Regions from separate parts of the Homo sapiens genome. Here region 1 is linked to region 2. The links come from fine-mapping of genetic effects on gene expression. A gene starts in region 2. The other region holds a variant in brackets. All regions are shown on one strand. Distances are between the middles of the regions. Region 1 holds the start of LOC107986768. Region 2 holds the start of SCIN (scinderin).

Region 1 (16,722 bases), 28 kb after region 2:
GACTTTTCCGGATGTCTGGGGCCAGCATGGGATATGGAGACGCCACTGGATGCCAAGGGACTGAGAAACCTGTTGAGTGATTTGGGAGATGAAGCTAGGGGCCATTGTCTGATTGTATGGAGCCAGGGAGACCAAATGTAGGGATGATTTCTGTTACAAGAATTTGGGAGACTTCTGCGGCCTTTTCTGAAGAGGTAGGAAATGCTTCTACCCACCTAGAGAAGGTGTCTATAAGAGTAAGAATAAATTTTGTCCTCTTGACGGGATGAATGTGGGTGAAGTCTATTTGCCAGTCCTCCCCTGGGAGTGTTCCTCTGAGGGGATGTGTAGGGATGGAGGGAGAGTGGAGGGCCCCTTGGGAGGAAGTAACAGAGCATATAGGACAGTTTGAGGTTATGTCTCTTAGTGAGGTGAATAGATGGGGGGAGGAGAAATAGGGTGAAGGAGTAGGTATGGGGGCGCACACTGATATGGAAGGATTGGTGAAGAGATGTCAGAATTTCTTTGGTCTGCTCTTAGGGGAGGACGAGCTTTTGATTTTTGACTATCCAGTCCCCTTGAAAGGAGGCTGCTTGCTGTATAGCAAAGCTTTCTCGGTGGGAGAGTTCTTGGGTAGGATTGCTGGGATAACAGGAAGGAGAGGGGCAGAGGCAGAAGAAAGGGAGGCTTCTTTTGCTGCCTCATCGGCCTTTCTGTTGCCTCGAGATTTCATCTGAACCTGTTCGATGTCCTCAACAGTGTATAACTCCTGCTTTAGCTGGGAGGTGTGTGGCCTGAAGGAGTTAGTAAATAAGGTGGCCATTAGTGATAGGGGTTCCTTTGGCAGTAAGGAGTCCTCTCTTTTGCCAGATAGCAGCGTGGGAACGAGGAATGTGATAGGCATATTTGGAGTCTGTATAAATGTTGACTCGTTTGCCTTTGGAAAGATTTAGGGCCCTGGTGAGAGCTATGAGTTCTGCTTTTTGGGAGGAGGATCCTGGCTTCAATTACTTGGTCAAGGGAAACAACTGCATATCCAGCAATCTGGGGGGTAGCTGGTGGGCCTGGAAGAGGAGCCATCTATGAATAGTTGATCATCGGGGTTGGTGAGAGGCTCGGAGGAAATGTTTGGGAAATGTGGCTGTACGTGGTCCAGGATATCAGTGGAAGAATGAGTAGGAAGGGAAGAGGATACGGGGAGTAAGGATGCTGGGTTGAGGGAAGCACTTCTGGTAAGACTGAATTTGGGATTTTTTATAAAGAGGGCATGGAGTAATTGAATCCTGGAAGGAGGAAGGGAGCTTACTGCTTGGGAGGAGAGGAGATCTTGTAGATTATGAGAACTGTGGACGGTGGTATTCTGGCTGAAAGTTAGTTTCCTGCTTTCTAGAGCTAAGCTGGCTACCACTTCTAGTGCTTTAAAGCAGGCTGGCCACCCTTTGACTGTGTTATCTAGTTGTTTAGAGAGGTAAGCTACAGGGGCAAAGGAAGGAGGATTTCCTTTCTGTTGTCCTAAGACACCGAGGGCTATTCCTCAGCTTTCAGCAGTATAGAGAGTGAAAGGTTGGGAGATATCAGGTAAGGACGGAGCTGACGCAGTGACAAGAGCAGTTTGGAGTTTGTGGAAGCTGGGGAGTATGTTATGTGAGGGGTTTAGGGGTTCATTGGGAGGGCCTTTGGCCACTTCATAGAGGGGATGAGCTAGGAGGGCAAAGTTGGAAATCCATATTCTAAAGAAGCCTGCTAGCCCTGGGAAGGAAAGGATTTCGCTTTTGGAGGAGGGTGGGGGTAGATTTTCTATTAATGCTGCCCTGGCTGGAGTCATAGCCTGGGCCCCAGGGGAAAGTTGAATTCCTAAGTAAGTCATCATGGAGATGGAGAGTTGGGCCTTGGAGGGGGAGACCCTATACCCTTTGATAGCGAGAAAGTTTAAGAGAGCAGTGGCCGTGTGAGTTTGAGAGTCTTTTAGAGAGGGGCTGCAAAGAAGAAGGTCGTCCACATATTGAAGATGACTGGGAGACAGGTTTAAGGAAGTAAGGTTTCGGGCTAGAGCTTGTCCAAAGAAATGAGGGCTATCCCTGAAGCCCTGAGGGAGGACAGTCCATGTGAGTTGTTGTGACTGGAGGGTGTCAGGGTCAGTCCAGGTGAAAGCAAATAGGTTTTGGGAATCAGGGTGTAGGGAAATGGTAAAGAAGGCATCCTTCAGGTCAATTGCAGTGTAGAGGGTGGTGTTGGTAGCGACGAGAGAGAGAAGTGGATAGGGGTTATGGACTATGGGATGAATAGGGAGGACAGCTTGACTGATGGCTCGGAGGTTGTGAACGAGTCGGTATGAGCCATCAGACTTTTTAACAGGGAGGATAGGGGTGTTATATGGAGAGTGTGTTGGTCTAAGAAGACTGCATGAGCAGAGCTTGTTTACGATGGGCTGTAGGCCCTTTTGGTGGGTTAGAGAGATGGGGTATTGAGGAACATTGGGAAATTTGGAAGAGTCTTTTAACTGGATTCTGATGGGGTCATGGTGAGCAGCTACGGAAGGGTTAATGAGAGAGGCAGGAAGTGGGTACTGGGGAAAGGGGTCAGGGGCCGGACTAGCGGAGAGGAGCAGGAGGGGACTCTGGTTGAAGGGGGCAAGAAAAGGTGATAGAAGCTTTGACTTTGGCTAAAAGGTCTCAGCCTAGAATGGGGGTGGGGCAATGAGGCATGATAAGGAAAGAGTGTGAGAAAATGGCATCAAACAGGGAACAAGTAAGAGGTCTGGTGGCAAGCGGACAAGAGATGAGTCCGTCAACCCCCACAACTGAGACTTGAGAGGGATGAGTGGGTCCTGAGAACTCAGGCAAAGCTGAGTAGGTGGCCCCACTATCAATTAAAAAAGAGATCAGCTTACCTGCTACTAGTAGAGTTACCCTGGGCTCCGATGCAGTGATGGCAGTGGGGGCCGGGAGCCGGGGCCCAGGGGCCCTGGCCTCATCAGTCTTCAGTGGCTAGGCCAAGGAGCTATGGGAGTGCAAGTGATTCTTCACTTTTTGTCTTGTTGAAGGGATGGTGGCTCTGAGGAGCATGCTTGTCTGCCCATCTGTTGAGAGGACAGTCAGACTTCCAGTGCCCATCTGCTGGCAGACTAGGCAAGGGCTCTTCGGCACTCATGGGTGGGGACATGGCCCCGTCCAGTGGCCTTCTTTGCCGCACTTAAAACAAGGCCCAGGAGGTTTGCTGCTATCAGGTCTTTTGTGCCCTTGGGTACTATGGCTAGACTGACAGATAGCCACTGCTGGAAGCTGGTATTTAGCACGATCTCTTTGGGCTTTATCTAATTTATTTTGCTCGTCCCTGTTATTAAAGACTTTGAAAGCCAGGTTAAGGAGGTCTTGTTGTGGGGTTTGAGAGCCATCTTCAGCCTTTTTAAGTTTGTGCCGGATGTCAGGGGCAGATTGGGAAATAAAACGGGTATTAAGAACAATAGTTCCTACATATGTAACAAACCTGCACATTGTGCACATGTACCCTAAAACTTAAAGTATAATAATAATTAAAAAATAAATAAAATTTTTTAAAGAAAGAACAATAGTTCCTTCTCAGGAGGCAGGGTCGATGCGGGTATATTTTTGGAGAGCTTCTGTAAGGCGGGAAAGAGATTGGGCAGGATTTTCATCTGCCTTTTGGGAAATGTCTTTAAGTTTTTCAAAATTTACAGCCTATGGGCAGCTTTGTTAAGGCCTGCAATGAGGCAAGTAATCATATGGCTACAGTACACTTGGCCAGGGTCTGTGGGTTGGTATTCCCAGGAAGGCTCTTCCCAGGGAACAGCAGCAGCTCCTACGGGCTTAGTAGGATCCTGCTGATGAAGGTCATCGGCATATGCCTGTGCTGCGAGCCACACTCTTTCCTTCTCTTCTGGAAGGAGGGTAGAAGAGAGGATAAAGTAGAGATCATGCCAAGTGAGTTCATAAGATTGAGTAAGATATTTAAATTCTTTGATGTAAGTATCAGGATCGGAGGAGAAGGACCCGAGACGTTCTTCAATCTGTAAGAGATCGTAGAAGGAGAAAGGGACGTGGACATGGACGATCCCCTCAACTCCCGCTACTTCCCGGAGAGGAAGCAAGGGAGCTGGTTGCTGAGCACATTGGGCCCGAGAGCGGGTGAGGGGAGGAGGCAGAGAGGACTCAGAGTCAGAAGTGGGTTGGTTGGAGAGAGTGGGGGAGAGGGGTAGAGCCGGAGCAGGGACATACGGTGGAGGATCATGATGCTCTGGTGGAGGATCATGATGCTGTCGAGGAGGGAGAAAATCCACGGGGTCAAAGGAAGAGGAGTCATCGGCTGGGTCTGTGGGTGGGGTGACGGGAGATGAGTCAGGTTTTGAGCTGGTGAGTAGGATTTGGAAAGTAGAGCAGGAGTGGCAGAGAGAAGGGTGGTTACGGAGAATGAAGAAAGCCTGAATATAAGGAATCTCAGACCATTTCTCATTGCGATGGCAAAAGTTGTCTAAGTCTCTAAGTATATTGAAATCGAAAGTGCCATTTTCGGGCCATTGGGAGCCATTGTCCAATTGGTATTGAGGCCATGCAGTATTGCAGTAAAAGATAAGCCTCTTAGAACGGATCCCTGAACGGAGGCCGAGAGCCTTGCGATTGCGGAGGAGACACCCAAGGGGGGTGGTCTTGGGAGGGGTAGACTGAGAGGCTCCCATAGTGAATGGAGGAGGTGAGGGTAGAGGAAGAAGGGACCACAGACGACAAAGACGAGAGAGGGCGGCGCCTGTCTTGCAGGCCTTGTATGGAATAGAGGAGGTAGCTGCGGAGTCAGGCGTCCAGGAAACAGAGGAACCAGAGGCCTGGAGGCCAGAGGAAGCCCTTGGCCCAGCGCTGGGTCTTTTGGGAGTGAAGAGATGGTCAAGGGTTCCAGGTAATAGGCAAAAGTCTCTCTTACTCACCCCTCTCAGAGGCTTTGATGGTGGATGAGGTGGCCAACAATGGGAGAATTTTGGGAGATCCTTAGGGTCTTTAGCAGGTTCGGGAAGGGGAGGTTGGCTGGGTAAGGGATGATAGGAGAGAGAGAGAGAGAATCCTCTAAGGACGCCCAGCCAGAGCCTATCCCCTTCCTGGGTTTTGGCACCAAAATGAAGGTTAGCCAAGAGAAAGGATGAGAGAGAGACCCAAGGTCAGGCGAGTAAGCTTATTATCCTGCTGAGCTGCTCCACCACAGTCAGAGGAGGCAGCGCTGAGCTTACAGAATGACGGGTTTATATGGGGCAGAGAGACCCTGGGGTTGTTTGTGAGTTAACTTTACCACATATCATCTTGTGACCAGGTTTCAATATAGGAATTTACAAGAGGGCGTAACTTAGGTTTATCCACGTTTCTCGTGACCTCCCCCATGCTGCCCGTAGGGCTGTAAGCAAGTCTGGTGACCTTGCTGTAGGCCTAGATAAGGATCCAGGAATGCAGCTGCAGAGTATTTGGGGTAAGAGTCTGTTGCATTGGGGTGGGGGGAGGGGTCCTGGGGCAGATTGTTCCTAACATTCCAGCCTTTTAATAGGTAATATAAGAGGGGCACTGTTGTCATCTGGCTGCTTCTTGCTGGATAGGGGCAATGGTTGAGGGGAGAGGAGCAGGCACTAGGAAAGACAACTCTTAAGATGTTACGATTTGTACTTTAATATTCAGCCATAGCTTCACATTAGAATCATTTGGAAAAGTTTTTTAAAGTACTGGTAACTGTGACTTGACCCCTGAAGATTCTGATTTTAAAGTTTTGGAATTTGGTGTTTGGACTTCTTAAGACTCCTTCCCTCCAGGATACCATAACATAAGGTACACTGAATGTTGTAAATCACTTCAAGAAAATGTCTAAAGATGCTGGACAATTCAGGGTCGTATTGTTACCAGTAGAAGGTATCCAAATTACCAGTGGCAAATCCATATGGGTCTGCAGCAACCTCAATTCTTACCTCCTCAGAAGAAAGAATTCGACTGACGGGCATAAGGCAGACAAAGAGACCAAGACAAGTTTCAGAGCAGGAGTGGAAGTTTATTTTTAAAGAGCTTAGAACAGGAAGGAAAAGAAAGGAACGTATGCTTGGAAGAGACCCAAGCAGGTACCAAGGTCAAGCGCGGTGTTTACTTTGATCCTAGGATTTTATAGATTCCTTTCCCATGATTCTTCCCTTAGGGTGGGCTGCCTTCATGTGCAGTGCCCTCCTTACCCTTGGGAGGTGAGAATATGCAGTGTGTCTAGGAAGTCGTACACATGCCAACCTGAGTCTTTCTTCCTTTTTCCAGTGGCGTGTCCCCAGAAGGTCATACTCCACCATGTTGTCTCATCTTGCACATCCCCAAGAAGTTGCTTCTCCCTGACGTCTGCGTTTAATTAAGTGCAATAGGTGTGGACCATCAGGAAATGGCCTCCCTGATGTCTGCATTCACTTTAGTGCAACAGGTGTGAACCTTCAGGAAATGGCCTCTTTCTGGTGCCAGCTGCCAATTTATCACTTTTAGAGAGGCAATGTGATCATTGCTGAACCATCAACTGACATTCCTAGTGGTTGGGGGAGGGCCCTCTCCTGCCCCACTCATGCCTGCGTAACTACCTGTAACAATACGCATGAAGAAGCAGTAACTCTTGATGTTGATTGAGCAGTTGAGTCACCAACTTAGGTGGCTGGCAGAAATGCTTTTTGTTAAAGTATGACTGTAAGCTTTTTTTTTTTTGGTTTGGCAAACACTTTGAGTAGTAAGAGAATATAATTTCACCTGTGCTCACTGGTGCTACGCAAAGATCCCTCCCAAAACTGTTCATCTGGTCCTGATGAGTGGCATCACTACCAGCAACCAAGCTAGAATTGTCCAAGTCATTTTCCTTTTCCCTGTCCCTCTACTGCACATCCAAATGGCATTATTGACCAATCCTATAGGCTTAGACCTTCTAAATATTTATTTCTCTTCTCTCTATCACCACTGATCTGCCCTAATTCAAATGTAGTTGCTTCCTTTCTGGTCACCAAGCCTTCAGTGGCCCTGCACACCACTCCATTCATCTTGTGTCCTTCATTCAGAGGTAGTTTGAAAAACACACACAATATCTTTCAATACATACGTAACTGAAGGATATTGAGTTGAGCTGGCTTTGAGGAGACAACAAAATAGATATAAAGAAACATTTGTTTATTCAAAAACGAGATGTCATATTTTAAACTTTTAAAATAAAAAAGGTTCGTGGAGTTATCTCACAAATCATTGTTTTTAAACTATACTTAGAGAACCTCTAGGCTAAAGATACATCTTAATGAATTTCTATATTTGGGTAACTAGATCTAAGGGAAAGCTAAACACAGGAAAGACAAAGCCAATAGATGCCAGGAAGAGGAAGAAGTCTGGCCTCACGTTCTCCTTTAATCAGATTTTAGATGTATTTAGAATAATAACTTAGAAAAGGACCAAAGAGCAGCAAGCCTATGCTGAATTCCTTGCACATGTTGAGTCAACATCGCATAGGCTGTTTTGGGTGCTCCTTTAAACACAGCCTCTGAAATCTTGCTTTTCCTCAAGGGCACCATTGAGCATTGTTTTACTTTTGCCCTTATTTTCTGTCCTCAAATGATGTCTGGCTGCACTTATTAACTCAACACATAGTT[T/C]AAAGAAATTTTAGAAACCTCTGATTTTCAAGACCAATAATAGGACTCCCCTCCCCAAATGTGGTTGTTTCTATAAATATAACTTGCTTGCTCTTATTTCTTGTAACTAGTGGACCAGACTAACTGCCAGTAACAGATTGTATTTATAGTCTCATTTCTTCCTTTTCCAATTGTGCAGAATAATTTTGTTTTTCTTTAATAGTTTGTATATTAAGAGTTAATTATAGTTTCACAAACTTCTGCTAGAGGATGTTCATATACAATATGTACATCAGCTTTCTGCCAGAATTTAAGTGGATTTCATTCCAAATTATTTATAAATGGATAATTTCATATTTACAGGGCTTTTTTAAACATTGCTTCCCTAGAGAAATATGATATTTAGTGTTGAGTTGTTAAATGCCTTAAGATCTTAGATGGTGAAATAGTTGCCCCTGAAACTGTTTGCTTTACAATTTTCAGTGTCTAGCATACTTAAATCAAGTCAATGAATGGTTTTTAAACTAAATTCTGTTAAAGCATTATACATAAAATAACTTAGATTATAGTGAAAACTTTCTGTTGTAGTAATAGGTATTTACCTATCACATTTATTCAGACTTTTTTTAACTTTATGAAGGAATTTATTTTTTAAGCCTACTCCCTGGTGGAAACAGAGTAAGGTGAATTAAGAACAGAGTTTTTTTCAAGCATGGTGCCAAATGAATACAAAGTTTCCTTCTGCCAGAGTGGTGAAGTAGTCATAACTAACTACCTCTGAATAGAGTAAGTGTTGGGCCGCACAGTTTATTAATAAAACTACACACACTTACTTCAGCACAGTAGAGCTCTGTTAAAATGAGATGTCCTAAACACACTATCCACACATGGTGGAATATACATTTTCAAATTTGATGAAATACTAAAATTGTGTTTTTAAAGCAAGTTTTAATGTACTGCTGCCACCACTGAATGAACATTTAATTAGATTGAATAAAAACAGTGTTATCGGCCTGGCACAGTGGCTCATGCCTGTAACCCCAGCACTTTGGGAGGCCAAGGCAGGCAGATCGCTTGAACCCAGGACATCGAGACCAGCTTGGGCAACATGGTAAAACCCCATGTCTACAAAAAACAAAAAACAAAAAAACAAAAAAAGTTCGCTAGGCGTGGTGGCACATAGCTGTAGTCCTACCTACTCAGAAGGCTGAGGCAGGAGGATTTCTTGAACCTGGAGGCAGAAGCTGCAGCGAGCCAAGACTGCATCACTGCACTCCAGCCTAGGTGACAAAGCCAGACTCTGTCTCAAAAAAAAAGAGAGAGAGAAAGAAAAAAAAACAGTGTTTTAATTAATAATGACTTGTCAAGCATTCTGACTTTTAGCCATTTACAATTAAAGTTATTATTTTATTAAATTTTTTATATCAACCATTGAAAAGTAAGTCTACTAAATAGGAAAATATATCACTCGTATGTAAATAGTGGCATAAAATAAGGTGAAAATAAAAAAGAGAACACAGGTCATTCATTTTCATGCTGAGTAAGAAGTTTTCTGTAACCACTTTGCTTAGTAATTTAGTCACCTTTGAGGTAAAAAGAAAACTTGACTTTTAAATTCTGATCTACTTTTGATCTTTCACTTTAATGTAAAATATAATTATTAGAAGTCTGTATTCTCAGACTTGCAGAGAAAATAATCACTTGCAAAATATCATGGAATAAGATAGGAAGAGGAATTTTAGCAAAACACTGCTTTGTATTTCATGGTGAGTGTGTGTGTGTGTGTGTGTGTGTGTGTATCACATTTTCTTTATCCACTCATGGATGGGCATTTGGGCTGGTCCCATATTCTTGCAATTGTAGATTGTGCTGCTATACACGTGTGTGCAAGTATCTTTTTTATATAATGACTTCGTTTCTTCTGGATAGATACCTATTAGTGGGTTTGCTGGATCAAACAGTAGATCTACTTTTAGTTCATTAAGGAATCTCCACACTGTTTTCCATAGTGGTCGTTAGTAGTTTACATTCCCAGCAACAGTATAAAAGTGTTCCCTTTCACCACACCCACACCAACATCTGTTTTTTTTTTATTTTTTCATCATGGCCATTCTTGCAGGAGTGAGGTGGTATCGCATTGTGATTTTGATTTGCATTTCTCTGATGATTAGTGAAGTTGAGCATCTTTTCATGTTTGTTGGCCATTTATGTATCTTCTTCTCAGAACTGTCTGTTCATGTCCTTAGCCCACTTTTTGATGGGATTGTTTCTTGCTGATGTGTTTTTGAGTTCTTTGTAGATTCTTGATATTAGTCCTTTGTCAAATGCATAGTTTGCTAATATTTTCTCCCATTCTGTGGGTTGTCTGTTAACTCTTGATTCTTTCTTTTGCTGTGAAGAAGCTTTTTAGTTTAGTTAAGTCCTATCTATTTACCTTTGTTTTTGTTGCATTTGCTTTTGGGTTCTTGGTCATGAAGTCTTTGCTTAAGCCAATGTCTAGAAAGGTTTTTCCAATGTTATCTTCTAGAATCTTTATGGTTTCAGGTCTTAGATTTAGGTCTACTCAGCCATAAAGAGGAACGAAATAATGGCATTCGCATGCACCTTGGATAGAATTGGAGACTATTATTCTAAGTGAAGTAACTCAGGAATAGAAAACCAAACATCATATGTTCTCACTTATATGTGGGAGCTAAGATATAAGAATGCAAAGGCATAAGAATAATACATTGACATTGGGGACTCAGGGGAAAGGGTGAGGGATGGTGAGGAATAAAAGACTGCACATTGGGTACAGTGTAAACTGCTCGGGTGATGGGAGCACCAAAATCTCAGAAATCACCACTAAAGAACTTATTCATCTAAATAAATGCCACCTGCTCCCCAGAAATCTATTAAAATTAAAAATTTAAAACAAAAACAAAGATACGTGTAGGAAAAAATATTCTGATTTATAGGGTCAATGTTTTTCTGTCATGAGTCAAGTATAAGTAAAATGTTTTCAAAACAAAAACATTAGTTTGGGCTCAGCAGAAAAGTCTACTGAGTTGCACTGGATAATTAGATGTTACAGATTCCCTGTTGTGCACAAGTGTGGTGTGCTCAGAGTACATCACACTTGGCACACACTGGTTGAATGCTAGAATCACCTGAGGAGCTTTTAATAAACACAGCTGCCCAGAACACACCTGAGATTTCCTAAGGATAGGGCTCACATCTCTGTATTTTTAAAAATTACCTTGCTACTCTATTATCTGATTTTAGTGCTCAGTGGCTAAGAGTTGACTTATCACTGGGAGCCCTTTATTTTTACTCTTTGTAACTGCTAACTTTGTCATGGTATTCAAATGACCTCCACATGTATGCCTCATATTCCAATGCCCAGATGTAGAAAAGAGGTTAAAAAGAAGCAATAGAAGTGCACTATTCTTTTAGAAATAGGAAAGAAACACCCTTTGACCATACTAAATAACTGCATTCGATTCTTGAGAGAAGGAGATTGCTAGACGTAGTCCTTTTGATTTTATTTCTTATAAAGTTTTGCATTCCTAAAATGTGTATTTTATTCTTAAAGAGGACCGTGGATTAGGTCATCAGGAATGTTAAGCGGGGGTCAGAGAGACTATTGCAAGCCTACTTTGTTCAGAATGGTGCTTCCAGTACCTACAGGAGAGGCTGCCCCATTTTAGTCACTCAGTAAACCATTTTTTGAGTGAAGAAATGACTCTGGGCTGGAAATTTAATCAGAGAAGAATCCATTTCTCTGGATGTTTTATTTTGCTATTTCTAATTTATTTACTCTTTTGAAAAATTGCAAACACACTATCAAATACCCAGAAAGTGGCAGCCTAGGTCCATTTCCCTCACACTTAACCACAACTCTACATGGTTGACTAGATGAAACGTGTGTGGGAGTGTTGTGAAAACCAAGCACAGTGCAAATGTATTATTAGCCAATTTTTCTACCAGTCCACCTCTCCTTGCTAGTTTTTTCTTAATTATCTCTGTATCCCCAGCATAATAAGCAGTGAGTAATGTATGTGACATAAAAACAAACAAAAAAAAATCACTGACTTAGATACAGTAAACATTGAAGGCTTTCTTTCTGCATATGCATGCCCTCTGAATCTCTTAAAACTGTTTATCATTTTTTTGTGCAAACACAGAGCCAGAGCTTGTGTTTTTGTTTCTACTTAAATGTAATTATATTATTCTATGTCTTTATTGTATTCTTGATGATATACCTTCACTAATTTTCTACATCAGTATTTAAACATTTTTCTTAATTTTTAACTACTGAAGAGGAGTGGACAGGACTCATGCAATGACATTTATGTAGCCATCCTCTTATTGATGGGCATTTGTTTTGTTTCTTATTGGGGGAAGTCGGTAGAACATGAGATTCTTAATCTCAGGGTCCTGGGTTTAAGCCCCAGGTTGGGAGCCAGATATCGGCGGAACCCGCTCCCAATGTTTCAACATAGGTTCTTTCTATTTTCCATAAGCATCAGCTGGCTGAGAAATAAAGAGAAAGAGTACAAAGAGAGGAATTTTACAACTGGGCCTCCAGGGGTGACATCACATATTGGTAGGACCATGATGCCCACCTGAGCCTTAAAGCCAGCAAGTTTTATTAAGGATTTCAAAAGGGGAGGGGGTGCAAGAACAGGGAGTAGGTCACAAAGATCACATGCTTCAAAGGGCAAAAAGGAGAACAAAGATCACATGCTTCTGAGGAAACAGGACAAAAGGCAAAACAGAACTACTGATAAGGGTCTATGTTCAGCTGTGCACGTATTATCTTGATAAACATCTTAAACAACAGAAAACAGGGTTCGAGAGCAGAGAACTGGTCTGACCAAAAATTTACCAGGCTGGAATTGCCCAATCCTAGTAAGCCTGAGGGTACTCCAGGAGACCAGGGCATATTTCAGTCCTTATTTCAACCGCATAAGACAGACACTCCCAGAGCGGCCGTTTATAGATCTCCCCCAAGGAATGCAATTCCTTTCCTAGGGTCTTAATATTAATATTCCTTGCTAGGAAAAGAATTTAGCGATATCTCTCCTACTTGCACGTCCATTTATAGACTCTCTGCAGGAAGAAAAATATGGTTCTTTTTGCCCGACCCTGCAGGCAGTCAGACCTTATGGTTGTCTTCCCTTGTTCCCTAAAAATCAGTGTTATTCTGTTCTTTTTCAAGGTGCACTGATTTCATATTGTTCAAACACATGTGTTTTACAATCAATTTGTACAGTTAACACAATTATAGTGGTCCTGAGGTGACGTACATCTTCAGCTTACGAAGGTAATAGGATTAAGAGATTAAAGTAAGGCAGGCATAAGAAATTATAAGAGCATTATTTGGGAAGTGATAAATGTCCATGAAATCTTCACATTTATGTTCCTCTGCTGTGGCTCCAGCCAGTCCCTCCGTTTGGGGTCCCTGACTTCCCGCAACAGTTTCTTTTGTTTTTATATCCCATGTTCGAATATTTCTGTAGTATAGATTCCTATAAATGGAATTTCTTGTTATTAAAAGCACATTTAATTTTTTTTTTTGAGACAGTGTCTCGCTCTGTCCCCCAGGCTGTAGTGCAATGGCATGATCTCCGCTCACTGCAAGCTTTGCCTCCCGGGTTCACGCCATTCTCCTGCCTCAGCCTTCTGAGTAGCTGGGACTACAGGTGCCCGCCACTACACCTGGCTAATTTTTTATATTTTTAGTAGAGACGGGGTTTCACTGTGTTAGCCAGGATATTCTCAATCTCCTGACCCACGATCCGCAAGCCTCGGCCTCTCAAAGTGCTGGAATTACAGGCATGAGCCACCATGCCTGACCTTAATTTTTTTATAATGATGCTAAACCACCCTTAAAAAACCTGTGTCAGTTTATACCACCCAAATAGTGGGTGATAATGCCCACTCCCACAGCCACTCCAGGTCTGGGTATTATTCAACTTCTCTTTCTTTCTTTTGGTAAACAATGTTAATGGAGGAGGTAATTTTTCATTATTATTTTACGTTTGTATCCTTATACCTTCTGGACACTATACCAAAATCTACAATCTAAAATATATAGTAGTTTAATCTAAATGGTAGCTAATATAATCTCTACTATATGTCACACTGTTATTCTGTTTCGACTTTTTCATGTTTCGATGTTAAAGTTTAATTTTAACAGTTAAGTATCAAATTTTCCCTATATATCATAATTTATATAACTATTATCCTATTCTTGAACAATTAATGCCTTTCCAAGGCCTCACCAATATAATTACATAGCAACGAAAACCCTTATATGTGTGGTTTTTTTCTCCTTTTATGAATAATTTATTAAAGTAAATGCCAGATAGTGATATTACTGGGACAATATCACTCTTTTTATGGCTCTTGATAAGAATTGTTAAATTGCTTTACATATATTAATTATCTTGATTCAGCCATTCCACAATGTATACATATATCAAAACATCATGTTATACACAATAAATACATGCAACATGTATTTGTCAATTTAAAAACATGAATAGTTTTACAAAAATGTTATATCCATTTTATGATCATCAAGAGTATCATATTTTTACAGATTCTTTACTACTTTTCTGAAGTGTGGTATATTTATTATTTCAAATTTAATCCATATGTTTACTTTTATAAATTGTAATTTATAGATTATATACACAGAGAATGGTGATATATATATTTATATTTTCCATGCTTAAAAACTGCTTACTTTGTAATGCTAACTGAAAGCAGCAGGATGCAGAATGAAGTGTAACAATTATGTATATACCTCAACAATAGGTCATTTAATTTTCCTTTTTCTTTCCTAATTAATCACAAGTATTACACTGAGGCTGAATGTCTTCCTCATATTCTTAGGGTCAACAGATCTGTCTCTTTCTTTTAGGAAATTTATCAGTGGTGTGGTTCCTCGTGCAACAAATATGAACGTCTGAAGGCAAACCAGGTAGCTACTGGCATTCGGTACAATGAAAGGAAAGGAAGGTCTGAACTAATTGTCGTGGAAGAAGGAAGTGAACCCTCAGAACTTATAAAGGTATTGTGACTCCTGTTGTTTGTTAAAGGGTTACCACTCCAACTCGTATGTGTCTGTGTGGTGTGTGTGTGTGTGTAAGGCAGCAGGGTGGGGAAGAAGGGGAAAGAGATTCAACACATGTTTCAATAGTGAGCCTAGCTACAATTAGTAAGAGGAAACAACAGGGTTATCTAAGTGATGGAACTGGGAAAACAGAAAGTCATGACTTTCTCTTACCGTTGGTGTCACTATCAAAGGAGCCCTGGGCCTATCTTCTATAGTATATGAGGTGAAACAAATGAGTGACACTTCTGAAATTGACCGTAAGAATGTATTTTGGAAGGAAGACAATATTAATAGTTCTTTCATCTATTCATCTGGGCTTCTCAGGGTTTTACTTGTTTTTTGTTTTTTTGTTTTTGTTTTTGAGACGGAGTCTTGCTCTGTCGCCCAGGCTGGAGTGCAGTGGCACGATCTCCACTCACTGCAAGCTCTGCCTCCCGGGTTCACGCCATTCTCCTGCCTCAGCCTCCCTAGTAGCTGGGACTACAGGCGCCCACCACCATACCTGGCTAATTTTTTGTATTTTTGGTAGACGCAGGGCTTCACCATGTTAGCCAGTGGTCCTGATCCCCTGACCTTGTGATCCGCCCGCCTTGGCCTCCCAAAGTGCTGGGATTACAGGCATGAGCCACCCTGCCCGGCCTTCTCAGGGTTTTTTTCAAACACGGTGGTTTTCTTCAATTTTAAAATTAACAGTTGCAGGTTGAGTATCCCTTTTCCAAAGTGCATGGGACCAGAAGTGTTTCAGATTTTGAATTTCCGGGGTATTGGAAATATTTGTATATACAAAATGATATATCTTGGGGATGGGAGTCAAGTCTAAACATGAAACTCATTTATGTTTCACATACACCTTATATGCACAGCCTGAAGATAAATTTATACAATATTTTAAATAATTTTGCGCATGAAACAAAATGTGTGTTAAGTACTTGTGGGTGGAATTTCCACTTGTGGCATAACATCAGGACTCAAAGTTTCAGACTTTGGAGTATTTCTAATTTCAGATGTTTGGATTAGGGATGCTCAACTTGTATTTCGTTAAAGGAATTAAATACAATCTTATACCAAGAGATTAAATATGCCAGTATTTAAAATATTTCAATCATTTTAAGCTAAGAATTATACGCAACACACTTATGATTTTAGTGTAGTTCTTAAATTAATGTGAAAATTAAGTGTTCATGGCTCTATAGACCCTGCATCATTTACTTAACGATTATATGAATCTTAGGCATTTGGTTGTGACCAAACTTTGTCTTTTAAGAATATTGCAGTGACTACCTAAGTATATATATTGTATATATTCCCTTAAATAAGACTGTCAGTTAAGGAGTATAACTATATTAAGATGTCTTCATACGTATTCACAAATTAATTTCCATTTGTTCATACAACAAATATTTATTGTACTCCTGCGATGCGCCAGGCACTAAATGTTTGCACCAGTTGCTACTTCCTTGTACGAGCACTGTGTTCCATCGTGACTTTACAGAGCCCTGTCAAAATCTGTTGATATAATACCTTTTTGAAACTTCTGCGTTTAATAGTGGTAGGTGGTATCTCTGAGTTTTCATTTCTCTGATTTCCTGGAATATTATACATATTCCTCCAGTAATTTTAGATTTGCATTTAAATCTATCTAAAGGCTATCTCATAAACATTTTTAATATTTTTGACTTACAGAAATTTAATGCAGTAGTTACATGGTCCAGTGATAGCCTAAAAATCCAGTGATCAGAAATTATATGAAATAACTTTATGTATTGTAATGTCTTTAAACTTTATTGCTTTAATAATGCCCAGACACAGACTTTCACATTAATGATGTTTTGGAAATAATTTTAATTCAGTGGGGAAAATTCTCATGGTATAATACTAGGAGAAAAGACAGAATATAAAATTTTATATGCAATATTATACTAACATATAATATGTGTATATAGCTCTGTATTCATACATATGTACATACCTAGAAAATTGTGCTAAAATATTACCAGTATTACATCTTGGGATGTGGCTG
Region 2 (16,722 bases):
TCCTGAGTAGCTGAGACTACAGGCGCTCACCACCACGCCCGGCTAATTTTTTGTATTTTTAATAGAGACGGGGTTTCACCGTGTTGGCCAGGATAATCTCGATCTCCTGACCCCGTGATCTGCCCGCCTTGGTCTCCCAAAGTGCTGGGATTACAAGCGTGAGCCACAGTGCCGGGCCAAGGGCACTGAACTTCTTAAATAACATAATACTTGTTAAAATAGAGAGCGAGCAAGAAAGACATGATTATGGATGAGTGTAATTGTTCTATAATTTTCACATAAAAATAAATGTCAAAATTATACAATTGAGTGATGCTACAATGACATGGAGTATTTCTGTGCCTAACAAGTCAGGGTTTCCCAAATGGAAGGATGGAACTTTCGGGAATTCTGCTTTTAACCCCAACCACTCAAAGAAAAGATATGTGTAGTATGAGTCCTAAACAAATTATAAATGGAAATGTACAGTATTATATCATGATCTTAATTTTGTGTAAAACGTTATCAGAGCATATCCCTAGGTTGTATGATTAGGGATAATTTTAATCTCATTTGTAATTGGTATTTTCAAAATTGTCTTCAGTAAACATGTGTAACCACAGCAATCAGAAAAAAATGCCATGTAGGTACTGAGATAAAGAAATGGTGGGAAAACAAAAAGAATTCTCCCTCATGTTTACTGCCCCAAGTATCCCAATGCCCTAAGACTTCCTGGGTGAAGCAAATTGCTCTCCATCTTTCTTTAGTAGGCCTCAGCTAGAAGTGTGAGTACCAGCTGTCCAGGGAATACTTGTTAAGCTGTTTATTTTAAAATGCTGTCATTTCAGGAGAGGAACTGGGTAGATACGGAGTTAATGAGGCTCCCTTTGCCAGCCTCAAAAGACACTGTTCTCTGAAGTATGTAAAATAAAGTATCTTCGGAAATCCTTTCAGTCAGTTTGCTTACTCCATAGAAGCCTGTGATTTCAAGCAAGCCTCAAGATATCAAGAGTAAAAGGAGTTACAGTCAAATTGCATAATTTCAACTCATATAAAGGGAGGTTGTGATAAAAAGAGAATTGGCTGAAGGAAGTTATTTCTGGCTAGCAGAAAATAATCTTCAAGCTTTAACTTTTAAAAACAACCTTCTGTTTGGTTTAAATGAATTAATTAACCTTATTTTTGTAAGTATCTTTACAACAAAATGATAATCTGATCATATCTGATTTCCATCATTTTCTATGGTTACACAGTTCTAGCATTCAAGTATTGTTGACTTAGTCCTTGAAAATCTGAAGTTATTTCTCACAAAGTGGTAATGCCAGGGCTACAAATAAGCAAGCAAAACAGAATAAATTGTTAATTGTGATTATTAGTAAAATAGAGACATTTAGAAAAATCAAGCAAAAAAGATGACACAGGCTCAAACACCATTAGCCTCAATTTTATTATATTTTAGACGATATGATCTCCATTTATACAAATATAATTTTAAAGGAAAAAAATACATTTAAATCATAAATTTTCATAAACTTTCATCCTCAACCTTTCTTTTGGTCATAAGCATTCTTCAATGTATAAACTTCTAAAGTAATGATAATGTCTTCTGTAAATAATCAAACATGGGTTAGAAATTGCTTTCATAATAAAATACTGCATGACAGTATTCAGAAGAAATGTCAAATCAACCAACTATGACCTGCTGTAGTAAGTAGGTTTACAAAAATGGACCATATATCACACCAGCAGACATTCAACAGCAATAAAACCTTCACTTTAGTACTGAACCTTGGACTATGATAGTTCATGGCTCAGTATTACTTTATAGTTATAGTGTTATGTGTAGTTTAAAAATAATTGACTTATGAAAGGGAAGGTCCAAAATCCTGATTGAAGCTTTTTTTTAAATGAATGCTTTTTTGGGCCAGGCGCGGTGGCTCATACCTGTAATCCCAGCACTTTGGGAGGCCGAGGCAGGCAAATCACAAGGTCAGGAGATCAAGACCATCCTGGCTAACATGGTGAAACCCTGTCTCCACTAAAAAATACAAAAAATTAGCCGGGCATGGTGGCAGGCGCCTGTAGTCCCAGCTACTCGGGAGGCTGAGGCAGGAGAATGGCGTGAACCTGGGAGGCGGAGCTTGTAGTGAGCCGAGATCGCGCCACTGCACTCCAGCCTGGGTGACAGAGCGAGACTCCGTCTCAAAAAAAAAAAAAAAAAAAGAGTGCTTTTTTTTCTTAAGCTCTAGTTTGTTTAGAATGAGTCAAAAGGATAAAAATACACTTCCCTGGAATGTATTTTCACTTCTAAGTGAAGCTTTGATAGGTACTGGGAAAAAGGGTGCTTGCTGATTATCAACTGACTTTGTTGATTGTGTGCTTAGGGCTTTGACATACATAATCTCTTTTAATCCTCACAATGCTCAGGTCCCCTGATTCCAGGTTCCATGCTTATACCCTCAAATAATTTGGTAAAACAAACGTTAAGTTATTACAATTTAGCAGGACTACCACTAAAAGAAATGTATTTTTAATTACATTATTTCATTATTTACATAACAAAAAGAAAGCAAATAAATAGCACATTCAAAGCATTTACCTCTCCTGGGGGAAAAAAAAGTGCAGTCCCTGTCTTTCGTATGTTTAGTTTCAACAATTCTGGGATCACGATGCAATGATATAAATAAAATGTCTCTCAACTCTGAGATTCTATCCCTGAGGAATGAAGATCGCTTGAAGCTGATTCATTTTTCCCAACCCATTTTAGTGAATTGCACAATACATCAATTATATTATTTGACATTGTTTTTTATTCAGAAGAATAACATATGCAACATTCCCCTCTAGGTATTAATATTCTAGAACACTTACCTTGAGTCCAATCACATTGGCCCCAAACCTCAAACCTCCTGACTCTTGGTAAAGACTTATTCACATTGGGTGTTTCTCCTTGGACTCAGGTTTGTAAATTGATGAAAATATAAATGTAATTTAATGTAAAACAAACAATTCAATCATATCTAGTCAGCATGTATTACCATAAAGCCAGGGAATCAAATAATGAGTCATGAATCTCTAAGTGAACCTTCAAACTTGAGAGAGAAAACACACTTCAGAGTGTGGGAGCTGCTATGATGTAAGCAGATCTGGAGTGCTGGGAGCACAGAGGATGCTGGAGTTTAATGGATCCGGGGGAATCATGACCCTAAGGAAGCAGACTTTAAAGAATTAGGAACTTTAACAGACAGATATGGAAGAAGGGCAATAACACAAATGGAAGGAAATTATTTACTTTTAGGAAACTAGGGTATGAGAGAGGAAGAGAAAATAAAGGCCTGGAAAGGAAACTGGCACTTGGTTTTGGAGACGATTTTTTTGTGTAGAAAATGGGCAGTCCTTATCTGGACTCTGGAAACATTATTCGTTGAAGATTGAATTTGGAGAAATGAATTAATCACTTGTTAGTCTCAGTGGAGTTTACTGCCACTTCCTATGTACCAGGTACTTTTCCAGGTTTATATGTATTTATCCATTTAATCCTCATGACAATTCTACAAGGAAATTTCTGTCAGTATCCCCATTCCACAGATGAGAAAACTGAGACACATAATGTTTAGTAACTTGCCCCAGCTCAGTGAGCTGAAATGGGGGAGAACAAGGATTCAACCTAGGTCAAAGCCATATTTTAAGTTAGGCCGCTTAACTTTCACTGCATGTCTCTACTGAAGATCAGAGGAGGAGCAAGAGAGTAGGCTACTAGGGATGGATTGGGTTGTTGATTGAATATGGAGATAGAGAGTGTTAGGTCAAAATTAAATGATGCTGTTAGTGAAATTAGAAAAAAATAGAAGTATGTTTGGATAAAACGATAAGATTGTTGTGAGTATGTTGAACCTGACCTCAGCAGGACCAATCAGGTAGCTATATCTATCAGGGAGTTGGAAGTTTAGATCTGGAGCTCACTTAGCCAGGAGAGGACTAGGGTCAGGAGAGTGAGGCACTTGCCTCATGCACAAAATTAATAGGACGAAAAAAAAGAAAAAAATAAATCAAGTATTTTAGTATATAAAATGGTATTTCAATGCAGCACTTTTTTAAATATCAAAATGCCAAAACTATTAACTATCAAAGTGGTTTTTTTGTTTGTTTTGTTTTGTTTTGTTTTGTTTTGTTTTTTTGAGACGGAGTCTCGCTCTGTCGCCCAGGCTGGAGTGCAGTGGCGTGATCTCGGCTCACTGCAAGCTCTGTCTCCTGGGTTCATACCATTCTCCTGCCTCAGCCTCCCGAGTAGCTGGGACTACAGGCGCCTGCCACCACAACTAGCTCATTTTTTGTATTTTTAGTAGAGACGGGGCTTCATCGTGTTAATCAGGATGGTCTCGGTCTCCTGACCTCGTGATCCGCCCACCTCGGCCTCCCAAAGTTCTGGGATTACAGGTGAGCCACCGCGCCCAGCCCAAAGTTTTAAGTAGTGGAAGGATCAGTACTTTTCCTTTGTCTCAGCCTGTACAGCACTATTAACAATCCTGTCTCTATTTGAAATGTTATATCATGATATTTTGCATTAATTTTGAGCTTTAAAATATCACCTTAAAATAGTATTTATCTTGAATGCTACTTTGTTGTTGTTTTTTGTGCCTCTTTAACTTTTACATCCTAGGCATCTGTCTTACTTGCCTCACACTAGCTCTGGCCTAACCTAGAGGGAATTTCACTTTCATCTATGCCAAAGCTTCTTTTTATTTCTTCAACAAAGAAATGATCACTGAAATTGAAACTGAAATTGAGACACCTCTGGTTTTTAAATTATCTTAAGTCTAGAGCACCAGTTCTTATATTTTTTTTCGTCAGGAGGAAGAGAACACATGATTTCAGTCTACAGATAAGGAAACTGAGACCTAATGGCTCAAAGTTAAAACTAAGTTTCTTAGTGCTGCATGGGACATACTAGATCAGAAGCTTCTCTAGATACAACCTTGAAGAAAATAAAATTATAAAGTATGCTTCAGGGAAAAACACCTGGCCAAATAATTTAGATTGAAAGAATACGTTTTTGGGAAGAGCAAGTACTTTTGAATGAGAGAGAGAACTTGAATTCCCTTTGGCTACTCATCAGCTGGGTGACTGACCTACGGCAAACTCCAAAGCTTCAGTTCCCTCATCAATAAAATGAGGCTTCATATCCACCTCTCACTGTTTTGGTCAGGAGACAAAAAAAGAATGTAGCTAATAAAATTTATCCATCAGGATCTCAACTTACAACAGAGCATGCATGCAAAATAGGAAAATTCCAGGAGATTTTTAGGAAGCTATATACAAAAGAACAGAGGCAGAGAAAACAAAAGGAATAAAACATGTGAGGGGAGAGTTGCTATAACCCAACAGGAGACAAAAAGTCAGACACAGTTATTCGCCTTTAAAAGAACAGTGACTTTTTGCTGAAGGAGCCAAGGAAATAAATACTCCAGCCTCACTCTCTTTTCTCCCTCTGGTCTCCAACCAAGCCTCAAGCCAGAGGACATCAGAGCCCACTTGATTTAGCTCTTGTAGATCAACCTCAAGGGAAGGTGGAAGGGTGCAGGATAGAGAAGATATCTAAAGGAGCAAAAGGAAGCTCACCACCACATAAAAATTGTTCCTAATTATTGAGTGTTTTCTGTGTAACAGACACAAATACCTTATATGTGTCGACTCATTTAAACCAAATAATCTTATAAGGCAAATATTATTATTTTCCCATTTTAGAGATGAGGAACATGAGGCTGGCTGTGTGTAGTTAAGTAACTTCCTGAAAGTCTCAGAACTAAGGATGAAAGCAGGAATTGAATCAAGGTAATGTGTACTATAGCCTGTTATTGTCAAAGATCAGTAAGTGGTAGTAATTGGTTTCATAATTATCGTCACTACATAAAAGCTATTTAATCCCAACCAATTATATTTCCAGGGTTTTATCTCAATTATAATACTGCGAATGCATAATAAAGTATGTTCAATATGCTATTTGTAACACTGTATTGGCAAAATATACACAAAATTTAAATGCCTAGTGTTGGGGCTCAGAAACCAATACCACAAAATGTGACACTTTGACATGCTGAAATGAAGAAGGCTTAAGTTTTCTTTGACCTTCCTTCACCAATCCTCTCTTTCCCAAAGCACAGAATGAAGGTATTCTCTGAAGTTCCCTTATCTGCCTAAAGTCTCGACTTGCCAAAGAAGAAAACAGTTACCTCTGGTCTCTTCCCTGACTTTCCACAAACTGAACTCATATTGCAGAAAGAAAGACTGAAGTCTGTCAACACACACGGAGAGCTCTGCAGGCTTAACATACTTTGTCTCAGGCCACTGTATGTTCTTCAAACACATTGAATTCCCCTAAAAATCATTTTCTAACCCCCCAAATCACCCATACATCACCCATCTGCCTTTCCTCTAATAAGGAGGTACAACCCTCTGTACCTCATTGGGATATTGGCCAATCACTCTGTGATTCTCCCCCATGCCCGCTGATAAATTTGTATGCCATTTGTCCTGTTAATCTGCCTTTTGTGACTTGATTTTTCAGTGAAACTTCAGAGGGTAGAGGGGAAGTTTTCCCTTGGCCCCTACACTATGAACTGAGATAGACAAAATAAATTAGTATGTTTATAAAGTGGAATACCATATGGTCAGTAAAAACCGGTAGCTCTATGAGTACTGTGTGTTGATACACAGACACACACACACACACACACACACACACACACACACACACACACACGGGGGGGGATTCGAAAAGGTTATATGTTACATTTTCTGTTAAAAATTTAAAATAACTACATTACCTATATTCTTGTTGACAAAATTTGAGTGCCTGGAAAAATACATAAGAAACTGGTAACGTAATTGCCTTTGGGGAAAGCAACTGGGTGGCAGGGTGAAATGGAGATAATTTTTTATTGCACACATTTTGTACTTTTAATTTTTTTACCATGGTCATGTAATAACCTATTAAAAACATAATTTAATTAAGGAAAAAAATCTAATTTTGCATTATTATTGACCTTCCAGGGATTCATGTAATTTGAGAAATTGAATGAAAACAATTTTACATGCATGAAATTCAGCTTTCTTACTCTATACATCCTGAGTGATTTGCCTTTTTCAGTAACAGAATCCTTTGCTATACCAGCTTGTTAAATGAATGCCAAATCAAGAGTAAAATTTCCATCTGTATTCCATAGTGTTTTAGCCATGCTGCAAAAGCAAAACCTGTAGGTAAAACAAAGAAAATTATCACCTTGAAGCTAGGTAACAGGTAACCCAGAAGTCCGGCCAAGCATAAAATTACAGCCACAAACAGCCCTGCAGAGAACATCTCAGGACGGCGGCTGCTGGGTTTTTGTTGTTGTTTTCATCTTTCTTGGCCAAAGGAAGCAGGTGTTAAGAGAGCTCAACCACAGCTCCTGAACTCTGAGATTTACAGAGCTCTGTCACCTGGGGTAATACTGCCATTCTTCCAGGTTTTCTTCCTGTCCAAGAAATCTGACATGCTGTTTTTCATGGTATTTTCAAACTGGAAGATCGAGACAGAAACTTTGGTCGTCAGGAATGCAGAGATTGCCCAATGAAATGACAGAATTGATCATTAGGATGCTTGTTACTCAAAAAGCCCATTTTTTAAAGAAGGATGTATTAAAATTATTCCAGCATGCTAATGTGGCACACTCCTCTGCTGCCTAACGGCAGGTGTTGCTATTAGCAGAGGAAGCCTTGTTCTAAGAATTATTCTAGAGGGCCAGAAAGAACAGGTATTGCTCCACCCGAGTAAACGCTGACTCAACTCTGCAGGGCTGGCGCGCTCTTTCCTCACCTCACCCCTCCTGCCAGGCACAACTGAGATCCAGAAATAAGAGGATTAGCGAGAGAAGGGGAAATATGCAGGACGGTAGTGATGGGTATGCACAAAGGAGTGCCAAGCAGTTTTAACCGTTAATGTTCTTCGTCTATTGCTAGAGAAAATGTCTTTCCTTGGAGGAGGCATTGGCACGAGTTACTATAAACTCCCTCTGAATCTCAAGACTTCTGGGACGCCGATTCCGCTCCTGGCCTGGGGCAAGGCGTGGGAGCTTGGAAGCCAGCGCTGCGCTCCCCGTGGGAAGCGATCGTCTCCTCTGTCAACTCGCGCCTGGGCACTTAGCCCCTCCCGTTTCAGGGCGCCGCCTCCCCGGATGGCAAACACTATAAAGTGGCGGCGAATAAGGTTCCTCCTGCTGCTCTCGGTTTAGTCCAAGATCAGCGATATCACGCGTCCCCCGGAGCATCGCGTGCAGGAGCCATGGCGCGGGAGCTATACCACGAAGAGTTCGCCCGGGCGGGCAAGCAGGCGGGGCTGCAGGTCTGGAGGATTGAGAAGCTGGAGCTGGTGCCCGTGCCCCAGAGCGCTCACGGCGACTTCTACGTCGGGGATGCCTACCTGGTGCTGCACACGGCCAAGACGAGCCGAGGCTTCACCTACCACCTGCACTTCTGGCTCGGTAAGGGACGGCGGGCGGCGGGACCCCGACGCACCAAGGCCGGCGAGGGGAGGGCGTAGGGGTCTGAGATTTGCAGGCGTGGGAGTAAAGGGGACCGCAAACTGAGCTAGCCACTCGCGCCCCCACGGGGCTGCCCTTTGGGGCCGGCCACTTTCTCCCTACCGAAGTCAACTCGCCGGCTGCAAACGCGGGGCTCAGGCGTTGTCCGCAATTGACTTACCTCGCAGGCTTTGACCTTTGCCAGGTGTAGTTCCTGGACTTTGGAGCTGGTGACTGGCTTCTTCCCCTTTCACCGTCAAGTATCCAAACGCCACTCTTGTCCAGGGCCGCTGCCTCAGCGCACACCGTCTCTGGCCAAGCCCCGCTCACCTTCCGACAAACTCAGTCCTGCTTTCCCTGTCGGGATGGAGAGGAAGTCATAAAGTCTGGGGGCATCTGCCGCCGCTAGGAAGAAGTCCTTTTCTTTTTCTTCACACATTATTTTTATTTGTTGCTTTCGGGCACTGGCTTATTTTCTCTATGATTGCGGGAATTATTGTTCTGGGCTTCTTTAAAACAGGATTCTACCCGCACCATGCTGCTTGTGGGTCTGGTAGACAAAAACTCCGCTTCATTCGGAAGCTGGCGTCCTCAGATAGAAGTAAGAAAAAAATACAGATATTTTATATACAAATAAATAGCTCTATATGGGTATTTCATATATTTATGTAGACTGCTTTATTGTTATTATTTATTATTTATTTTAGCAAGGACACAAGATGGAACAGAAACGGCTCCTTCAGCAGTAGTAATTATTTTGAGCTGCGTTCGTGCCAGGCTGTCAGGACACTGGGCCTTGTGTGTTCTTTTTCCACCTTCTACTTTTACTCATAAACATCCTGAATGTCCAGCCTCTCCCCAGGAGGTCTTGTGCCAGTGGGCACACCCTGTCTAACAACATGCCGATTCTCTGAGCCTTTTTGCCTTCTTTTAAAACTAGCTAGCCTGCCCAGTACTCGTGTTTGTTTAGTTTTATCCCTGAGCTTAGGAGGAAAACACACAAAACCACACACACTTACACATTTTTGAGTCCCTGAAAGCCAACACTGTAATTTCCAACATTTGAAGATTTTAAGAAACAAAATAATAGAAAACATTGAGTAGTGACTGTCTAAACATTGGCAAACACCTGGAACAGGCATTTGAGAAATGAGAAATGAAAAATACGTAGATGAAGATAAGACTTTTAATTATAACATTTGGAGTCAAAAATTTGTGTTAGCTTGAGGAGGCAGAGAAGGCTCAGCCTGAGTTCTGAACACATTTTGGCTTCTTGATGCATTGCTGTTATTCCTATTATAATGTTGTAATACACAGTCATCTATTTGTATTTTCTGCCAGAAAAGACTGAAACTTTTATAACCCATGTTCAAGAATGAATGATGCCAGATAGAATAATGATGTCCTTACAGAGGACTTTCCATGCAGAACTTAAATCTAGCATGAATGAAAGTGTTTGAAATGCCACATTTGCCATTTGAGTAAATTAAAATGTGAAATAATGCCATATCTTACTGTAGACAGCAGTTAAGTTTGACTTTGTCAGATGACCGCAAGGGAGATTTGAACACAATTCTTTAATTCTATACATTTTTATCCAAGTTGTCCTCTTAACTACTATATTTTGTAGGGTTTACAGATTCACCTTATTCACTTAATTATCTACTTAATTATCCACTTGATGCCCATAAATTTCAAAAATATAATAGAAAATGGTTTGGGCAGAAACATTTATAATCTTAAAGACATGCTAAAACTGAAGTCAATAACATGTTAATAACAAGCAAATTCATTCAGTAATTATTCAATATGGCCAGTACTGTACAAGGCACTTGTGGATATGAATAATTAATGAAACTTCTCTAAAAGTTCATCACCTCAAAGGTGCAAAAAGACAAAAAGTGATATAACACAGGTAGAATGTGATAATTACTGTGAAAGCACAAAGTTTCTGTGGTTATTGGGAAACAGAAGCCTTTAGAGAAAAAAAAAATGAGAGTACTTGGAAGTGTTCTTGTGTCAAGAGAGAATTATGGAGAGAAAAAAAGCTTCAAGTAAAATAGTCAACAGGACTTTCAGATGGGATTGCCCAACAGCTCTTCCTACTTCAGTTCCCTAAGAAAACAGAATTTCATCCAAAATAGTGTAGTCTAAGACCTAAATTAGGATGAATCCATGAGGATTCATCAGAGAGACAGATTGAGAGAAAGTCACAGGAGAGAGAGCTGAACTTCCAGGGGAAAAGAACATTTGGTTAAAGGAAATCAGCCGGAAGAAAGAGAAACTAAAGTTAAACTGAGATGAAAAAAGGTGCATAGCATAGAAATGAAGAAACAGGCCAAATGGGAGGCAAAAAGGGGAAACAGGAAGAAGTTGGACCTAGAACAAGAGAGAACAGAGCAGGAGAGTCGTCTTTCTTGGTCTCTCCCTCAGTGTTTCCATAACACTTGGCATATCTCAGATTATTTTATTGTATTAACATTACATGCTTGAATGTATTAACATCATATGCTTAAATGTAATGAAAGTAAAAATTTATTGCAAAGAACTTAAATGTTATTGCATTAGCCCTTCTTTAAAAACATTTCAGCTTTGCACCTAGCAGTTTAAATGCATCCATTCACCTCTGTTTGTAGTTCCTTATAGCACCAAATCAATGGGTAGGTCTAGATAGTAAAACTGCTCCCTGTCACATCCCTAACCTAAGGTACAAACACTTATCCTCACTCTTTCTCTTTGCCAGTTTTAAACTTCACACAAATATATTTTAAAGCAGTATACATTTATGTTATAAGTGGGCTATACCAGGCCTTGTGCAATGCCCTGGGAATCCAAAGGATTGGATTACAATATACGATACAAAGAACTTATACGAAGGACTGGCTAGAAACTGGATCATTTACATTGCTGGAGCATGGGGGTGGGTACATGCAATGGTACAGCACTCTGGAAAAGAGTTTAGTAGTTTCTTACAAAACCAAATATACTACTACCATATGAGTCAGCAATTGCATTCATAGGTATTTATTCCAGAAAAATGAAGTTTTGTATTCACATGAAAACCTGTACCTGAATGTCCACAGCAGTTTTATTTGAATAAACAAACACTAGAATCAGCCCAGATGCTTTTCAACAGGTGACTGGTTAAACAAGTTGTACATCTGTACCAACTAATACTACTCAGCAATAAAAAGGAACAAACTATTGATACATACAACAACTTGGATGAAGCTCCAGGGAATCATGCTGAGTGAAAAACCCTAAGAGGCTTTATACTGTATGATCCCATTTATATAAAATTTTTGAAATGACAAAATTTTAGATTTGGCATTGCCGTTGGTTACAGATAGGGTGAAGAGGGGATGATGTGGGCAGGAGAAGAGTGTATTATAAAAGGGCAACTTGAAGGATGTTTTTGGTGGAACTATACAGCATCTTGATTGTGATAGCAGATGTATGAATTTACACATGTGATAAAATTTTATAGAACTAAATGCACACACACACGAGTACAAGTAAAACTGAGAAAATACGAATAAAATAGGTGGATTATATCAATGCCAATATCCTGGTTGTGGTGTTCAGTGCTATACTGTACTATACATTAATATGTTAAGCTATACTGTAATTTTACAAAGTTGCCACTACTGGGGGAAATTGGGTCTATTGATCTGTGTCTATCCTTCAATAGTACCAATCTGTTTTAATCACGTTAGCTATGTAGTAAACCTTAGTATCAGGTAGAGTGATTCCCCCCACTTTATGCTTGTTTGTCAAGATTATTTTAGCTATTCCAGGGCCTGCGCCTCACTATATAAATTTTGCAATAAGCCTGTATATGTCTATAATAAACCTTACTGTGATTTTGGTAAGAATAACATTAGGCCTATAGATCAATTTGTGAAGGATTGACATCATTATTATGTGGAGTCTTAAAATCCATGAACACTAAGCGTTTACATTTACTTAGGTCTTCCTTGATATTTTGAATGCCATTTTGTAATTTTCAGCATACAGATCCTGTACATGTTTTTAAACTATATGCCTGAGTATTTCAGTTTCTTTGGAGTGATTGTCAATAGCATTGCGCCTTTAATTTCAGTTTCAGCATGTTCATTGTTTCTATATAGAAATGTGACTGATTTTTTGTATTACTGATGAATCTTGTATCCTGCTAATTTGCTCAATGTACTTTTTATTTCTAGGAGAGTTTTCTTTTTTTTTTTTGGATAGGTCTCTTAGAGTTCACTATGTAAACAATATTGTTGTCTCTAAATAGAGACCTTTTTATTTCTTCATATTCAATTTGTATGCCTTTTTTTTCTTTTTCTTACTTTATTGCAGTGGTTAGAACTTGCTGTACTATGTTGAATAAGAGTGGTGTGAGTGCACACCCATTTTCTGGATTTTATGGGAAAAACATTTAGTCTTTTACTGTTCAGCATTGCTAGCTCTGTGTTTTTTGTTGACTCTAATTATCGTTGGAAGGTGTTCCTCTCTATTCCTAATTTGACTTATTTTATTTTATCATGAATGGCTGTTGGATTAACCTAGTTTTAAATCTCTCTTTTTATCTATAAAATCATTACATCCACAAAATACTTATAGAAATTCATAGGATGTACACAAGTCTAACATAATATAAAATAACACGGCACAGCATAGTATAACAGAACATAAAAGACACCGGTAAAATCAGTGTAGGGAAACAACAAATGGAAATCATAAGCAGATTCGTAGGGGAAAACTAAACTGATTCTTAAGCAGACTTTATACACAAAGTTCATAAGTTTCTAAATACTTTCTGGAATTCCATCATGCTACAACTGGATTTGATTCTAATTTTCGCATCCAAAGGCTGACATTGGCTTCATCAAGACCGTCAACCTCATTCAGGCATCCTGTTTTATTCATACAGATATTCCCTGGCCAACCACATTACATAAGCATCAGCAAATGATAGGATAATTTAATTAACTTACTTTCAGTTCATTCATTAACTTCATGCCTGTCCATTTACATCTACCTAAAGAGATTCAGGTTTCAACCTGTAGTCAGGTAAGGACGTTTATGTCAAATACATCATCTTTAACACCTTTGATGTTAACCTTGATTCCAAGTTATCTCTTAAAGCATCTCTCTTAAGGCATCATAAAAATCTACATCTACATCTTTATGGTATTCTCAGTTAGGGTTCGGATCCCAAATCGGCAGAAGAATGACACCAGAGTCCTTTCAGATTGCAAAATTGCCGGTGTGTCAAATACTTAACTTTGACCACAGCGAGTTCACAAAATTGTTATCACGTCAAGTAATCTTCTAGCTACTGAGTTGTTTTTTTTTGTTGTTGTTGTTGTTTCCCCTCAGAAGATACTTGGTATATGAGTCTCATTTGAGAGTAAGAGGGAAATTGTAAGGAAATCTGATTCTTTCTTTAATACAACTGACTGATTTGCCTTCTTCAACTTTGGTGAATACTGTCAGTTAGGGTTGTTCATGTGAACTATTAAATTATTACAGCTTCTAAGCTTTTATGCATCAGTTATCTATGGAAGAAATTAACATACCTTGTCACTATAAAATTGTACCGCTAATGAGAGCCTGAGTACAAAAAAATACCCACAAGTGTACTGGAGTTTTTAAGAACCTGTGCTTCAGAGTCACACAAACCTACATCTGGTCTTTTTCTCCCAAAAGTTGCTTTATGACCTCAGAAAAGTTACCCAGCCTCTCTAAGCCTCCATTTTCTCTGTTCCAATCTAGTAGAAAATAGGTTCTGCTTTATGAGGTTGCTTGAAGATTAAATGAGATCATCCATGTAAAACATTGGCATAGTGTCTGGCCCATAGGGGTAGTATAAATGTATAATGTTGGCTATTATTATTTCTAGAGTCATTTAAGATTTTTATTACAGCTTGGATGTAGTAAAGAGTTTGAAGTGTTTTCCATAAAATGTGAGTGCCCCTCCTGACTGTCCGTACTGTATCCTTTATGTACACTACAGACACTGGTTCTTAGGAATTGTTTTGACCTTAGTGAAGTTACCTGGATGTGATGTGTATTACAATTGTGAAAATTAAATGTATGTTGTATGTAAAATACCTGGAACAATACCAAGTACATTAACACTTAATAAATGTTAGCGTGCTGCTTCCTTTGCTCTTCCTTTCCTCCAGAGATCATTATTTCATTCAAACAGAACCAGTCAGATAGTGAAGTAGGGAAAAAGACCAAAAAATAGGGGTAAAATTAAATTATATTCATTTTCCCATTGTAAAAACCACTTATTTAATTATGGCTCTGATGCTCATATTTCTCACAAACATCAGTTAACATATTGACATATCATAAAATCAAAGATTTATCCTAATAAAGGCTAAACCACTTGTCAAATGTTTTCATAGTCTGATCTTATTGACCTTACCAAATTAATGCTTACTTAAATCTCATTGGAATAGATTGTTTTATCTTCTTGAGCAACTTCACACAACAGTGTTTCTTTTTAAAATTTTTAAAGGAATTGGAAAAAGCAGAAACAAAAACAGGCCGGGCATGGTGGCTCATACCTGTAATCCCCAACAATTTAGGAGGCCAAAGCCAGAGGACTGCTTGAGGCCAGGAGTTTGAGACCAGCCTGGGCAACATATGGAGACCTTTTCCCTACAAAACACTTTTTTGAGAATTAGCAAAGCATGGTGGCACGCACCTGTAGTCCAAGCTGCTTGTGAGACTGAGGTAGGAGGATCGCTTAAGCCCCAGAGTTTGGGGTTACAGTGAGCTATGATTATGCCATTGCATTCCAGGCTTAGCAACAGAGCAACACCCTCTCTCAAAAAAAAAAAAAATAGACTAAAAAAATTGTTAATTATTAGCAAAATAATGTATTACATACAGTATTTTAGCTAAAAGATCTTTGTGTAGAAGACTGTTGGATTGATACATAATTGAAATGAAAATTTCTGACTTCTTTCATATCAGAAATTCTGCCTTAATCCTTTCTCTTGCTTGATAATTGAGGTGCTGTTGTTCACTGTTTTAGGAAAGGAGTGTTCCCAGGATGAAAGCACAGCTGCTGCCATCTTCACTGTTCAGATGGATGACTATTTGGGTGGCAAGCCAGTGCAGAATAGAGAACTTCAAGGATATGAGTCTAATGACTTTGTTAGCTATTTCAAAGGCGGTCTGAAATACAAGGTAAGCAGCTCCCTCAGTTTCCATTATGAATCCCTTTCTCCTCTTGTCCATCCATACCTCCTGTCTTCATAGAATGACAGTTCGTTGAGGGCAGGGGTTTTTGTTTTATTTGCTTTTGTTTTAATCTGTTTTGTTCATGGATATATCCCCAGTACCTGCTGGATACAAAGTAGGTGTTCAATAAATGTTTGTGAAATGTGTGGTACAATATGTGAAATATTGTGAAAATTTAATTTGATAGGTTAATTTTTTAAAAGAGCTTTCAGTTGTGTCTTCACAAGATACCTTTGTAATATTTTGTAGCTATTTCAACATTTAAATTTTGGTAATTTGGGTCTTAAAAGTTTTCATTTTTGCTATTCTAGAAAATCTCTGAAGTTTCTGCAAGTAACCTAAGCCTTCAAAATCTCAGTTGTTCTGGAATATATTAATACAGTATTTATAATAATTATAATTTTAGTAACTGTAAAGAACTATACATGTATTTCCAAAATAGTGTGGTTTGATCTTAGAAGGGATGCAGATGAAAATTTTGAGCTTAAAATTCTGCAGGTAAACTACACACACGCACATACACAATTTATGCACACTGGTCTGAAACACTGATCAATTGGCTTTACTTCTGAAAATAAACAAGAACAAATAGTTAAATGGTTCTATCCCTTTAAGGCAGCCTTCAGTATAGGACAGGTTTTTTTTTTTTTTTGGCATCCTCCTAGTTAGCTTTCCAGACTGGCCCTCCCTTCACCATTCCTGCCACTCACCCCTCCACACGTGTTCAGTTAAAGTGTGAGGAATACCCTCCCCAGACAAACATCACAGATTTCCGAAATCAAACACGCTCCAGCAAGTGTTCTGCACACCCCACTGCCCTGCCCTGTGAGCATGCTACCCTAGTGAAGACCTGAAACCTTAGAGCTTCACTACAATTCTGACTGTAATACTAAGTCCGCCTACTAAGATGGCGAGGTTTATTTATACCTTTACCTGTTCA

What was found. PIP is the estimated chance that this variant, and not a neighbour inherited with it, causes the effect.
Region 1: its variant is fine-mapped to the expression of SCIN in subcutaneous fat (TwinsUK, PIP 0.95).

What each region holds. Positions count from the first base shown.
Region 1 is chr7:12,590,007-12,606,728 of GRCh38, forward strand. It overlaps SCIN (scinderin), which reads left to right. Exons shown (of 16, transcript NM_001112706.3): 4 at 14,508-14,657. LOC107986768 reads right to left here and starts at 5,201. Exons shown (of 3, transcript XR_007060635.1): 1 at 4,916-5,201. RefSeq lists an enhancer at 5,632-6,831. The variant T/C (reference allele first, on the strand shown) is at 7,616.
Region 2 is chr7:12,562,491-12,579,212 of GRCh38, forward strand. SCIN (scinderin) reads left to right here and starts at 8,230. Exons shown (of 16, transcript NM_001112706.3): 1 at 8,230-8,495; 2 at 15,574-15,728. The coding sequence starts at 8,297. LOC107986768 reads right to left here. Exons shown (of 3, transcript XR_007060635.1): 3 at 1,403-8,891. RefSeq lists an enhancer at 4,749-4,798.